Regions from separate parts of the Homo sapiens genome. Here all the other regions are reported to be linked to region 3. The links are microRNA targets in miRTarBase. Many come from high-throughput screens and were not tested one by one. Region 3 holds a microRNA gene; each other region holds the end of a gene's coding sequence.
What was found. The annotated mature microRNA hsa-miR-548bb-3p reads CAAAAACCAUAGUUACUUUUGC and lies in region 3 at 2,088-2,109, shown strand. An mRNA with a match to its seed (bases 2 to 7 or 8) in the 3' UTR can be bound and repressed. Matches are read on the target gene's strand: a 7mer-m8 pairs with bases 2 to 8, a 7mer-A1 pairs with bases 2 to 7 and ends in A, and an 8mer does both.

Region 1 (4,065 bases), not on the chromosome of region 3:
TTTGAAGAAATTGAGTTGTATTCAGAATATATACACATATAGCAGAACAGAAATTCAAAAAAATACTCGATTTTGAGTAATGAATACCGAATTAAATTCTAGTTCAGTGTCACTGCATATTAGAGCCTGAGAATTTATTTTTAGAACTGTAGTACAAGTTTATTTGTTGACCAGGTTTTTAATTTTCAGACCCCACGTATACCTGACTCAGAAATGTTGATGGATGAAGGCACATCTGATGAAAAGGGGCACATGGAAGAGAAATTGTCCCTACTTCCAAGAAAGAAAGCACATCTTGGGAGTTCAGACAATGTTGCTACTATGTCAAATGAAGAACGATCTGATGGTGGTTTTCCAAACTCTGTGATAGCTGAATTTTCCGAAGAACCGGTCTCTGAGAATTTGTCTCCTAATACTACTTCCTCATTGGAAGACCAGGGTGAGGAGGGGGTATCTGAGCCCCAGGAAACATCTACTGCTCTTCCTCAGAGTTCTTTGATAGAGGTTGAACTTGAAGACGTGCCATTTTCACAGAATGCAGGACAGAAGAATCAGTCAGAGGAGCAGTCTGAAGCATCTTCCGAGCAACTGGATCAGTTTACACAATCGGCAGAAAAAGCTGTGGATAGCAGCTCAGAGGAAATAGAAGTGGAAGTGCCTGTGGTAGACAGGCGGAATTTAAGAAGAAAGGCCAAAGGGCATAAAGGACCTGCTAAGAAGAAAGCTAAGCTGACCTGAAGGAAGAAGAAAGTGGATGATAAATCCTCTTCTTTGTAACATAGTTGTTGTTTTTAAAATATGGTAATTAATAAACAGCATGGGGCACAGGACAAAAATTTCCAAAATTTCAATTTGAACTTACTTACTATGCAGTTTTTTGCTTCCCTTTAGAACGTAGAATTCACCATTGTTTTTAATTTTCCAGGCTATTTTTGGTAAATGCAATTTTTTATTTTTATTAACCATGTTTCAATTTTGGGAAACCAGATCATATTATATTTTCTTTATCAGGTGGTACATCTGACCATTATTTCAAAAATATAATTAAAAAGCTGTGAAAGTAGTAGGATTTCCATTACTTATAAGGATCACAGAAATCTTTTATACTAAGGGTTTTAATAGTAAAACTTGGTGAGGGTTCTAGAAGTTTTAAATTTCAAAACTAATCACCAATTTTTTAAAATGTAGGCATGCCTAAACAAAAATAAGTGTCAATAAATTAGAAAAAATATAACTTCAAGTAAATGAGAGCACAAAAACAGAAACTTACGGTCAAAGGTTCATGAAGATATTTTGGTTTTGGCCTCTTAATCCTAGATATAGATGCAGTTTTTTCCTTTGACTTCACTATCTATGGAAAGGTACACATAAAATCTGTTTCTGATTCATTCTATCATCTGATGTTAACAGTACTGTCAGGGATTTAACTGTGGCATGTGGGGACTAATTATTTAAAATTTCATTTGAAGTATTAGTTTGCTGTAATTTTTTTTGTCTGCATATGTGCAGACGCCTAGAAGTTTAGACTTTCACCTTTAATCAGGTAAAAATCACAACTATACTTTGGAGACATGGTTTAATTTGGACTTCTGGTCCTGATCAGATAGATAAATTAAGCTGGAGATTTTACTTTTATCCCAACCCAGTTAACATCTATATTTCAGAAGTATGAGGCTCCTTCCTAAGGCATCTCCTTAAATCTTGCCACCTCCCTAATTCTACAGTCTTATTTATATTCCCCCACAGCTTTCATCTACTTCTGTAACTCATGGAGTGATTCTCCAATCAACAGATCTTCCTGCCTGCCGGCTTATGCCCTTGATGTCCATTTTTGGGTAGGTTTGGAGGTGCACCCCACAATGTTAGACCTATATGGCAGGAGTAAAACTGCCCCCAGTGTTAGACCTATATGGCAGGGGTAAACTGCCTTTGGGGGAGCTGTGGTTACAAGGGCTTCAATCATATTGGAGGCTTCAATCATCCTTTGATTTGTACTGAGTACTGGTTGCAAGCTGGCCTGTTAAGTATATATTGTGTTGCCATAACAAAGGCCTAGGAAAATTTGAAGAAAAAAAACACTGAACTGTTATTTTTTGTAATTTATTTAAAAATGGACAAAATGGTTATTAGAATCCAAAGATAATCTAAAAACAGTTCTACTCTTTGGAAATATTATGTGTACTCAAATTTGCACTTAAGTTGGAGAATGTTTTGAGACCATTTAAATTGTTTTAAAAATAGCTTGATCTTGATCCTTATGCAAAAGAAACTAAGACTTTGTGTCATTATTTGAGGTAGCTAAGGACTGATGTTGAAAGTGTATTCAGTCTATAGTAAGCTGATGTCAGGTCAGTAAATTTTGTTTGGGGATGTTGGTATTTTCGATCAAGTTAAAATCTTAAAGCAGACAAAAATAGTAAACGCTCCTATTTGTGTTAGATTTTGAACAATTGTATTACCCTATATTTTCTTTAATTAGTCAAAGGTAAGCCAGATTATTTCATTCTAAATGAAAATTAAAGCACTTTGGCCATTTATTTTTTCAACAAATGCTAATACTAAGTAAAAAAAAAAAAGTATGACTACTATTAGTGAATCTACCAAACATTTATGCTGTTTTATACATTTTATGAGAAACTTCTGTCAATATCACAAAGGGAAATACTCTGTTAAGATTCAGTAAATTCTTAATCTTTACATGTTTCATTTCTTAGATTTGAAAACACTTGTAGATATTTTATTTTTACTTGGATTTGTTTAAAATACTTTCTTTTCAAATTATTTTAAACATGGAAACGCTTCATGAATTTGTGTCATCCTTGCACAGGGGCCATGCTAATTTTCCCTGTATTGTTCTAATTTTAGTATATGTGCTGCCGAAGTGAGCACTAAAAGACTTTCTTTAGACAAGTGTAGTTTTTTAAAGATTGAGCTCACTGGCTCAACTCTTGATGTGTGAATATAGTTGAGTTTACAAAAAATGTTTATTAATCATATATGACCATTGGGGGCTAACAGTATAAACTTATTCTTGTTAAACTTGTTTGGGTTAAATAGTAAGTGAATTGTAAACAATTTAGAAGTTTTTTGTTCAGCACACAAGAACACTTCTGTTACAGATTCTCTCTGACAGAAATTGTTATTTTGGGGTTTATAGATTATAGAGGGAAAAGTTAGATCACTTGGAAAAACCTAACTCTCATGTTCAGTAACTTGAGTATAGAATTTATACCACAATTTATCTTCAATAAGGAACCTACATGAACTTAATCAGTTATCTGTAGTTTTTGCAAGGCATTAGAAAAAATTTCACAATTACAGAGGACTGAAAATGTGATTTCAACCGGCTAGTCTAGTTGTTGAATGTCCAGTCACATTACACATAGTCCTTTGTGAACTTATTTGTGAAGGGAGTTCACTTTTTATGTACATACGTGTATATTTCCTTGTGTAATATAAAGCAGATGGTTATTAGTATTTTAGTTCTTTCAAGTTTAAATTATTCAATTGCTAGACATCACAGAAATTAGTATATTTAAGAATTTATTATAAAGCTCCTCTACAACTTTTAAAGGTGAGAGGGTCTATTATGATTTTTTTATAAAATCAAACAGCATGATTTAGAACGTCAGTCTTCTACTTAAAATGTGTCTATATTCATGGTATTTCCATTCAGTGTAGATGGTAAGGAAAACATCTAGTCATTAAAGATTTACTTATAGCAGACTCCAGAACACTACCTACAATGGGGTTTCAGTGACTAGAAATCTTGAAGGTTTATGATTGCATCAAATTGAGCCTGTACTAATATCTAAATATCTGCTCTTATGTTCTGCTTTATCCCTTGGGATTACCTTCTAAGGTTTGGTCACACCAGCAAACTGAAACAGATCTTAATGTACATAAAAAATTTATACTAATATTACTCATCTGTGTTACAGTATTTTGAAAAATGTTTCAGGTGTCATCTAGTCGTCTTTCATGGGTGTGATTAGTTACAAATGTTATGCTTATGTTTTCATACTTAATATCAAGCTTTCTTTGTACCTTACAAGATAGTATTTT
Region 2 (4,065 bases), not on the chromosome of region 3:
ATTACTAGCAGCTTTCTCTATTACCTGAAAAATCAAATTGGAAGTTATCCATCTCTCTAGATGTGAAGGCCTGAAAAAACATAATATACTTTCCGCTTGGAATCAAATTTCAACCCCTGCATGGGACAACTAGAAAGTGAGACTTTCAAGGTTTTTTATTTCCCTGTTGGTTTTGGTTTCTACTCTCCATGGCTTTTTGAGAAGCTGGAAAACAGTTTGTCTTTTCTGACTAGCATTGTCTTTTTTTCCATTTGGCAAATATTCATCTACCTCCAATCTGTATCTAGTAGAGGAAAAGCCGACATGGCTTTTCTTATGAACTTCCTTTGTTGTCAAAGGCATGTATAATGATTTCTACAGTTCTGGTTAGTTAACTTTAGCTCCCTCTGTGGCTGGATGACTGCTGCTTCTAACATCAGCATGATAAATAGGAGGCACAAATAAAAAGTAGCTTAAAAAAAATTTGGTGATTTAAAAGAAAAAAACAACTCCAAACACACACACATACATAAGCATTTCAAATCTGGTGGCTGATCTCTGGATTAAATTACTTGACAGTGTCTCTCATTTTAAAGAACGTCAATATTGCAATGCAGTTCAAGTTTTCTTTTATACTTAGGCAAATAATACAGTTTAACCAAGCTCTTGGACCTTAATTGTAAGACAAAGCAGATCAATAAAAATAAGGCATACTTCTCAGGAATTAAGTTTTGTTTGCTTGTTTTTGGCACATTTGATCATACTGTCTTCTATGAATAACACATATGGTCAAATATACCATTTCCTTATTTGTTTCAGCATAAACAGGGTTTACCAACTAGTAAAATAAAAACAAGGAAAAATTCCAACATAAAACACTGATATATAGAAACTAGGTAAAGTACCGAGCACCTGGGAGGGAAGGGTAGGGAAAGGATGCAACAGAAGAGGGAAGACAAGGTTTGGGAGGGTGCTTGGGGAGGTAAAGTGAGATGCTTAAAAAAAGAGCATCTTTACAGTCACTTAGTCTTTTCTATGATCACTTTTTAAGTCTTAAAAGATCTGCATGTGGATTTCTTTTTAAACCCACTGACCATAAATCAGACACTGGTTTCAAAATCGTAGTTAGATTGTATTAAACTGTTTTAGTGTAAAGACAATTAATTGCACAATACATGTGCTTCTTGAGCCGGTGGGATTCCAAGCAGAATCTGAAGTCTATAGATAAGAAAGGCTTCACTTTAGGTAACTCTGGCCCTAAAGAAAACCTCATGAAAGAACTCGCATCTCAAAGAAAGGACACTTTGCCTAAGTTTGCTGTGTTTTTGTTGACTTGCACTACTTATTGCTGGCTACTATGAAACAGTGATCTAGGAGTACTCCAACAACCTGTAGTACAAGGCTTAACTTTAAGAAGCTATAGTAAACAAGAGACAAAATCAAAGCAATTCTCTTTCCTAATTAGTAACAGCACAGAGAATGCAGTCTTTTCCATATCACAGTTAAAGTACAGTGAACAAAACAGCTCAACAAACCTTAAGACAAAAAAGTGCAGGTTATTAATGTTTACATGCAGTTGATAAGCATTCCAAATGTCACATTATGCACTGTAAAAGCTCAACTTTACTATATGGAAATAAGAAAAATGCACCTCTGGGGAGGGGGAAAAGCAATTTAATCATTTCCAGTGATTTTGTAAGTAAAGAAACTCCTAACTACTGTACGGTCACCTCATATTTAACATTGAATATTAAAAGCAAACAATTTAATGGGAAAATGCACAGTACAATGAAAATAGCTTGTTATTCAACACATACAGTAGATCTCAAAAACGAAGACAACACACTCAACCAGGGAGCATAAAAATATCAAATCAAAACCCAAAGGACCAGCAGAAAAAAATCCTTCAAAAAGACAACTGTTTGCCTTCCTAGGCCAATGCTTTACAATATAAGAAGCACTGATACCTTCCCGCTCCTACAGGTGGTGTCTTATACATACAGCAGTTAGATCTATATGGCTGGATTTGCCAAGAAACAATTCCATCCCCAGAACTCTCTGTCAGACAAGACCCTTTTTTTTTTTTTTTTTTTTTACCAAAATACTTTCTACAGAATTCCAAACCAAAATGTACTGTTTAAGGCATCTTTTTTATAACATTTTCTCTTCACTCAAAGATGATAGTCATGCAGCAGTTTAATGATAAAAATATATTAATATTTTACTATACAGCAGCAAGAAGTTAGTTGTCAATTAAAAGCACACAAACATCTTTAAAGGAAAACCTGTAAAAGACTATCGTTACAAACAATTTCAGTTTGGAGGACACCAGCTTGGTAAAGTGCTCTCCTAAACTTTGCATTTTCATACCCTACACCTTGAATATATGAGTTATAGAACATACTTTTGATAGAAGGCTTGTACACTTGGGGAACACAAATACACTTAGCATATAATGTAGCCAGTAATAACTAGCACCACAGCTACATGGAAATCCTTTACATACACCAACTTGGCTTTCACTTTTAAAACAAAACTCAGAATCCATGGCTCAGTAGGATAACTATAATTGTGTTGCTCTGCTTTTTAACAGGTCTACATAAGTTAATAGCACTAGCAAAAATCAAAGAATAGCTTCAGACCTCTTACAAGTTTAGGAGACAGTGCTAGTGACCACAAATAGACTCACTACCTGATGTCCAAGTACAGGTTCACTGGAAATTGCTGCACGTTAGTTTTTTAAAATCTTTCTACACATAATAAAAAAAATATATTATGAACGATACAAGTACATCTCATATACACAATAATGACAAAACGCCTACTCAGTCAAAGCAAACAGATGCAGAAAAATATTATGGGAGATCTCCTTTTTCTTTCTTTTTCCTTTTACTATTTGAATAACTTTGGTTCCAACCATAAAAATCACAACTTAGCAAATTTCATTTAAATGCCTTTTTTAATAATTTCTTCATGTTCACAGAAGTTTCACTGACCATTTTTATAAGTTTAAGGTCCAGATGCAATGCATATTGTATAAAAGAGAGCACTTATTGTTTACCTTGCATGAATTAAACCTACGTACCTTTAACTCTACAAACTTCTGCATAACATTTAGACAAAGCTCAGACACACAGCATGCCTAGCCCTCATATATATACACATCTCTAATCACAGGTATATAGGGTGTCAAATATACTATAATAACCTCCATGTAAGGTTTGAAATTTGGTAACAAAATGAGAAAAACTAAAAATATTATTTTACGTGTTCTAAAATATCTCTTTTTTGTGCTAAAGTCAAATGTTAGCTCAACATGAAAAGGACTTTTATATAATTCAGCAATATTATAATCTTGACCATTTTGCAAACACTTTTTAATAATAATAGCTTAAACGTGTACAAAAGTTCTTGGTTAATTAGGGAAATAAACACTCAGTTCTTTATATTTTTTAATCAAGTAGGAAACACAGTTCATATAATGTTATTACTTTTTGTATTTTTTTTGTTTTTAGCAGCTGCTTACTGTTTTATATGGTGGATAAAGTGGACAACATCCAGCGATGGGTGGCAAGTCAAGAAGAGAAACTGTCAGTTGGTGGAGGTTCTGTGGGTGGTGCTCCCTTGGAGTTAACAGGTTTTTTTTTTTTTTTAACTTTTTAACTTTTTATTTTCTCTCTTTCTTTACAGTATATTTTCTGTGTGTGTGGCTGTGTGTGTGTGTGTATGCATGTGTGTGTGTGTGGGGGTTTCATTCAGTTTGATCAATCTTCTTCCCCTTCTTCCTCACCCTGCAGTAGCAGGGTGGCAGCGGCGGTCTCCTCCTGCTGCTGCTGTTGCTGCTGGTGAAGCTGCTCACAGGCAGCCCGCTTCTCCCTCTGCTTCTCTTGAATCTTCTTCATCTCCTCCGAGTACTTGCAGAAGGTGTGTCCGAACTTGGCCCACACCTTGTAGGGCACGGTGATGGAGTTGCGATAGGTGGGCTTCACCTCGCTCACTCGCATAAACACGCCGTACTTGTTGGAGCCCACATCGAAGAAGAAGCGCTTGTTGTCCACAGTCAAGGAGGTGCCCTCGGGCAGCTCG
Region 3 (4,069 bases):
TATCATACATGTTTCTTGCAAATATTTTCTCCTAGCCTTTGGCTTGTCTTTCTCAGTTGACAGTGTCTTATATCAAGGAGACGTTTTCAATTTTAATGAAGTCTAGCTTATCAATGATTTCTTTCATGGATTGCACCTTTGGTATTATATATAAAAAGTCACTTTCATGCTCAAGATCAGCTGAACTTTCTTGTACATTATTTTCTAGGAGTTCTATGGTTTTACATTTTACATTTAGGTCTGTGATTCATTTTGAGTCAATTTTTGTGAATAGTGTGAGGTCTTTGTCTAGATTCTTTTTTTTTTTTTTTTTTTTTTTTTTTGCATGTGGGTATCCATTTGTTCTAGATCCATTTGTGGAAAAGACTATGTGGGCTTTCTCTTCTGTTTCACTGATGTATTTGGTGGCTTTTGCCAATACCACACTGTTTCAATTACTATAGCTTTGTTCTAACTCTTGAAGTCGGATAGTGTCAGTGCTCCTACTTTGTTCTTCTCATTTAATATTGTCTTGCATATTCTGAATCTTTTGCTTTTCCATGTACACTTTAGAATCAGTTTGTTAATATCCACAAAAAATAGGTTGCTGGGATTTTCATTTTCTTTGTATTTATTAGGCAAAAATATTCCTTTATTTACATTTTATTCACATTTAGTTTTTTATGCGCACATTTAAAGGACTTTATTGTAAACAACGACAGTGATTCTAGAACAGTAGATAGCTTTTTTAAATGTAATTACTCTTGTAAGAGGAAAAAATACATGATACTAAAGGATTGTATTTTGTGACCACCTATAATGCAACAAATCATCTACTTAGTTGCTATGTTAATCTTTGCTGCTGTAACAAATTATCAGACTCAGTGGCTTCAAACAACACAAATTTATCATCCTGTGGTTCTGTAGGACAGAAGTATGATACTGGGCCCACTGGGCTGAAAAGGTACCAGCCGTACTGCATTCCTTTTTGGGGCCTTTAGGGGAGATTCTGTTTCATTGGCTTTTCAGTTTTCTTTGTGGCCCCCTGCATTCTTTGGCTTATGGTCCCTTCCTTCTTCAAAGCCTCCTTTTCACCTCCTTCAAAGTGGTCAAGTCTGTCTTATACAGCATCATTCTGACCTCTTTTGCCTCCTTCTTCCACTTTTAAGGACCCTTAGCATTATATTAGGTCCACTCAGATGATTCAAGGTCATCTCAAGGCCCTTAACTTAATCAAATTTCAACTTAATCACATTTGCAAAATCTTTTTGCATAACATATTCGCAGCTTCTTCAAATTAAAACGTTGACATCTTTAGGTGTGGCCATGATTCTGCCTGCCACAGTAGAACTTGTTTTCAAAGTAATCAGGTTTTGCCCTCAGCAAATTAACGCAGGAACGGAAAACCAAGCACCACATGTTCTCACTTACAACAGGGAGCTGAATAATGAGCACACGTCAACACATGGAGGGAACAACACACACTGGGGCCTGTTGGAGGGGTGCTGCTGGGAGGGAGAGCATAAGGAAGAGTAACTAATGGATGCTGGGCTTAATACCTAGGTGATGGGATGATCTGTGTAGCAAATCACCATGGCACTACCATCTCTACAGCAGCACAGCCTGTATCAAATAATGGTATGTTGGAGTAATTCAAACTGGAAAATAGGTAGCTAGGAGGACTGCACCTGAGCATATCAACCATGAGTTTCCATAAACCTGTAAAACAAAATAGCCAAAGAATTATTACATATATATATCTGTGGTTAAGAAATCATACCCCTCCTTTTTGAAAGGCCCAAATTCAAAATGAAAAGATACCACTACATTATATGACTGGCTTTCAAAAATTCCCCAGTGTTCTGCTTAACTTTTTAAATTTACTTTGTATCTTTTTTTTTTAACTCCAGAGTAGAAGAGTGATGCTTGATGTCCTCAAGTTACAGCCAGCATTTACTAATTCTTTGATTTGACTTTATAAAGTACTTATGCTTGAATCCAGAACCCAAGGATTTTTCAGTTATCACAAATTACTTTCACAGAAGGCTAATTTATTATTCTATGAGACAATCCATTAGATTGGTGCAAAAGTAACTATGGTTTTTGCCCAAAAACCATAGTTACTTTTGCACCAAGCTAAAATATTCTTCTCACTAAACTTTTTCTCTGCCAAAAGATCACATCTGGATAACTTTTTTTCCCCACATCTGGATAACTTAAGGCAAGCTTTTGTACCTCTTCTTCAGTACCTCAGAGAGAAAACAGCTTCTGTTTGATATTTGTGTAGTTTGTTTTGGCATAGTCATTGGAAAGGTCTAGGATTTTGGTTCCTGGACCACATATTAAAATAGCAATTCCCTACTGTTCAAATTGAAACTTGCCTGTAAAAATTCAATGTTAGTTTTTACCTGCTTGGTACCCTGAATTAAGATGAAAGGGTTTTAAAAAATCATCTTTCTTACAAAATCTGTGGGATCATTGTGACCCAATGAAAAATATACTTCCTGCAAAACTTTAACCATCTGTTTATTCAGATCGAGACTATTGGAAAAGGTACAAGGGACATTGGTCAACAATCAACAAAGGCATTTACAGGTAAATCCAGCTGAGTAGAGGAACTCATAGAATCCCTAAGTTTAGGTTTTCATGGGACAAAAGAAAGCATTCAGGAGAATGGCCCAAAATATTTACAGTATCAAGATCTGATATCATAATCCTTCATAGATCCCATTGTTTTGAAAGACGTTCAAGAGTGTGTGTTATAGCTTTTAGTTATTTTGATATGATGCTAACAATCACTTCTTTGCTAGCTCCTTTGGAACGAAGAAACATCTTCAGGTCCTGCTCATTGGGAACATTCTGTTAAAAACTCCAGGCTGTCGTTTCTTTGCCATGTCAGTATCCACTTCCATAGTAAGTTATTCAGTGGTTCCTCATTCTCCAAAGCTCATTGTCTGCATCGTTTCACTTCACACCAAAAAGCCTAAGTGAAACTGATTTGAAGAGCATTTCTGCTGAAAATCAGGTCATCCAACATTTTGAATTAAAGTGAAAGTTCTCATATACCAGAGATTTCTTGGTGCCATAATAGTCAGGTAGCCCAAACCTTTCGGAATGCTGTGTGCCGTAGATGGCTTTTACTTTGGCTTGGGATTTTTAAAACTGAGGTTGCATTGAATGTATAGGTCAAGTTGAGAAGAACTGATATCTTGACAATATTGAGATTTCCTGTCTGCGTATGTGGATAGCTTTCCTTTTTCTTAGATCTTTTGTATTTCTTTCAGCAAAGTTTTATAGTTTTCCTTATATAGATCTTTCACGTTTGATTTATACCTAAGTATTTAAATTTTTGGCATTAATGTAAATGGTATTGTGTTTTTAATTTCAAGTCCCAATTGTTCATTGCTAGCAATAAGAAGACAATTGACTTTGTATATTAACTTTTGTCCCACAAGCTTGCTATGATTGCTTATTAGTTCTAGAAGTGTATTACTTGTATAATTAAAAAAATTTTAAAAAAGAATCAAAGAGTATGGAGGAGAAACTTTCAGCACACCTGTGCACATCATAATCATTAAAATGTGATGAAATATGTTGACACCAGGTGTTGCTTTTGTGAATTTCCTGTAGTGGCTTAGAATCACTTTTGCTTATATTTTCAAATGTGAAGATTTGTATAATAAATTAAACTGAACAAACAAGAAAACATCTGGGGTGAGTTTTTGTAACAGGTGTTGTGTAAATAGGTCTTGTGGATATCCAAACAGGTGACACTACCTAAAATATACACACATGTTGGACTCAACATGCACAGAAACAAAGCATGTGGAATAGAAGAACCTAGACAATGGTAGTCCCAAGAATTGTGACCTAATGACAAGTGATATTACTGACAAGGGTGTTAATAACTCATAGACAGATCAGAGTTTCGATAAGGAAAGCAGGGACATCTCTCAATGTACAGCAATGAGGAAGACTTCATTTGTGCACATTTGTCTGACTTCCAAAGAACAGTTTCTTTATCTCTTTTTCTTCCACATCTCACTCTATTCTTATTGGTAAACTTCACTCGAACCATCCAGGGAAGAGT

Region 1: the mRNA of FAM169A is a reported target of hsa-miR-548bb-3p. Seed matches in the 3' UTR shown: 7mer-A1 at 788-794 and 7mer-A1 at 910-916.
Region 2: miRTarBase lists PURA as a target of hsa-miR-548bb-3p. Seed matches in the 3' UTR shown: 7mer-A1 at 827-833.

What each region holds. Positions count from the first base shown.
Region 1 is chr5:74,778,133-74,782,197 of GRCh38, reverse strand. It overlaps FAM169A (family with sequence similarity 169 member A), which reads left to right. Exons shown (of 13, transcript NM_001376049.1): 13 at 190-4,065. The coding sequence ends at 738. It overlaps NSA2 (NSA2 ribosome biogenesis factor), which reads right to left. Exons shown (of 6, transcript NM_014886.6): 6 at 2,085-4,065. It also overlaps the pseudogene RNU6-1330P. Among named protein-coding and RNA genes, the nearest start is that of NSA2, 13 kb to the right of the region's middle.
Region 2 is chr5:140,114,829-140,118,893 of GRCh38, reverse strand. PURA (purine rich element binding protein A) reads right to left here. Exons shown (of 1, transcript NM_005859.5): 1 at 1-4,065. The coding sequence ends at 3,744. Among named protein-coding and RNA genes, the nearest start is that of PURA, 2.8 kb to the right of the region's middle. RefSeq lists enhancers at 3,738-4,065, 3,618-4,065.
Region 3 is chr3:60,615,855-60,619,923 of GRCh38, reverse strand. It overlaps MIR548BB (microRNA 548bb), which reads left to right and starts at 2,054; the gene lies at 2,054-2,119. The region is part of intron 4 of FHIT (fragile histidine triad diadenosine triphosphatase); the gene reads left to right. It also overlaps the pseudogene MTERF1P1.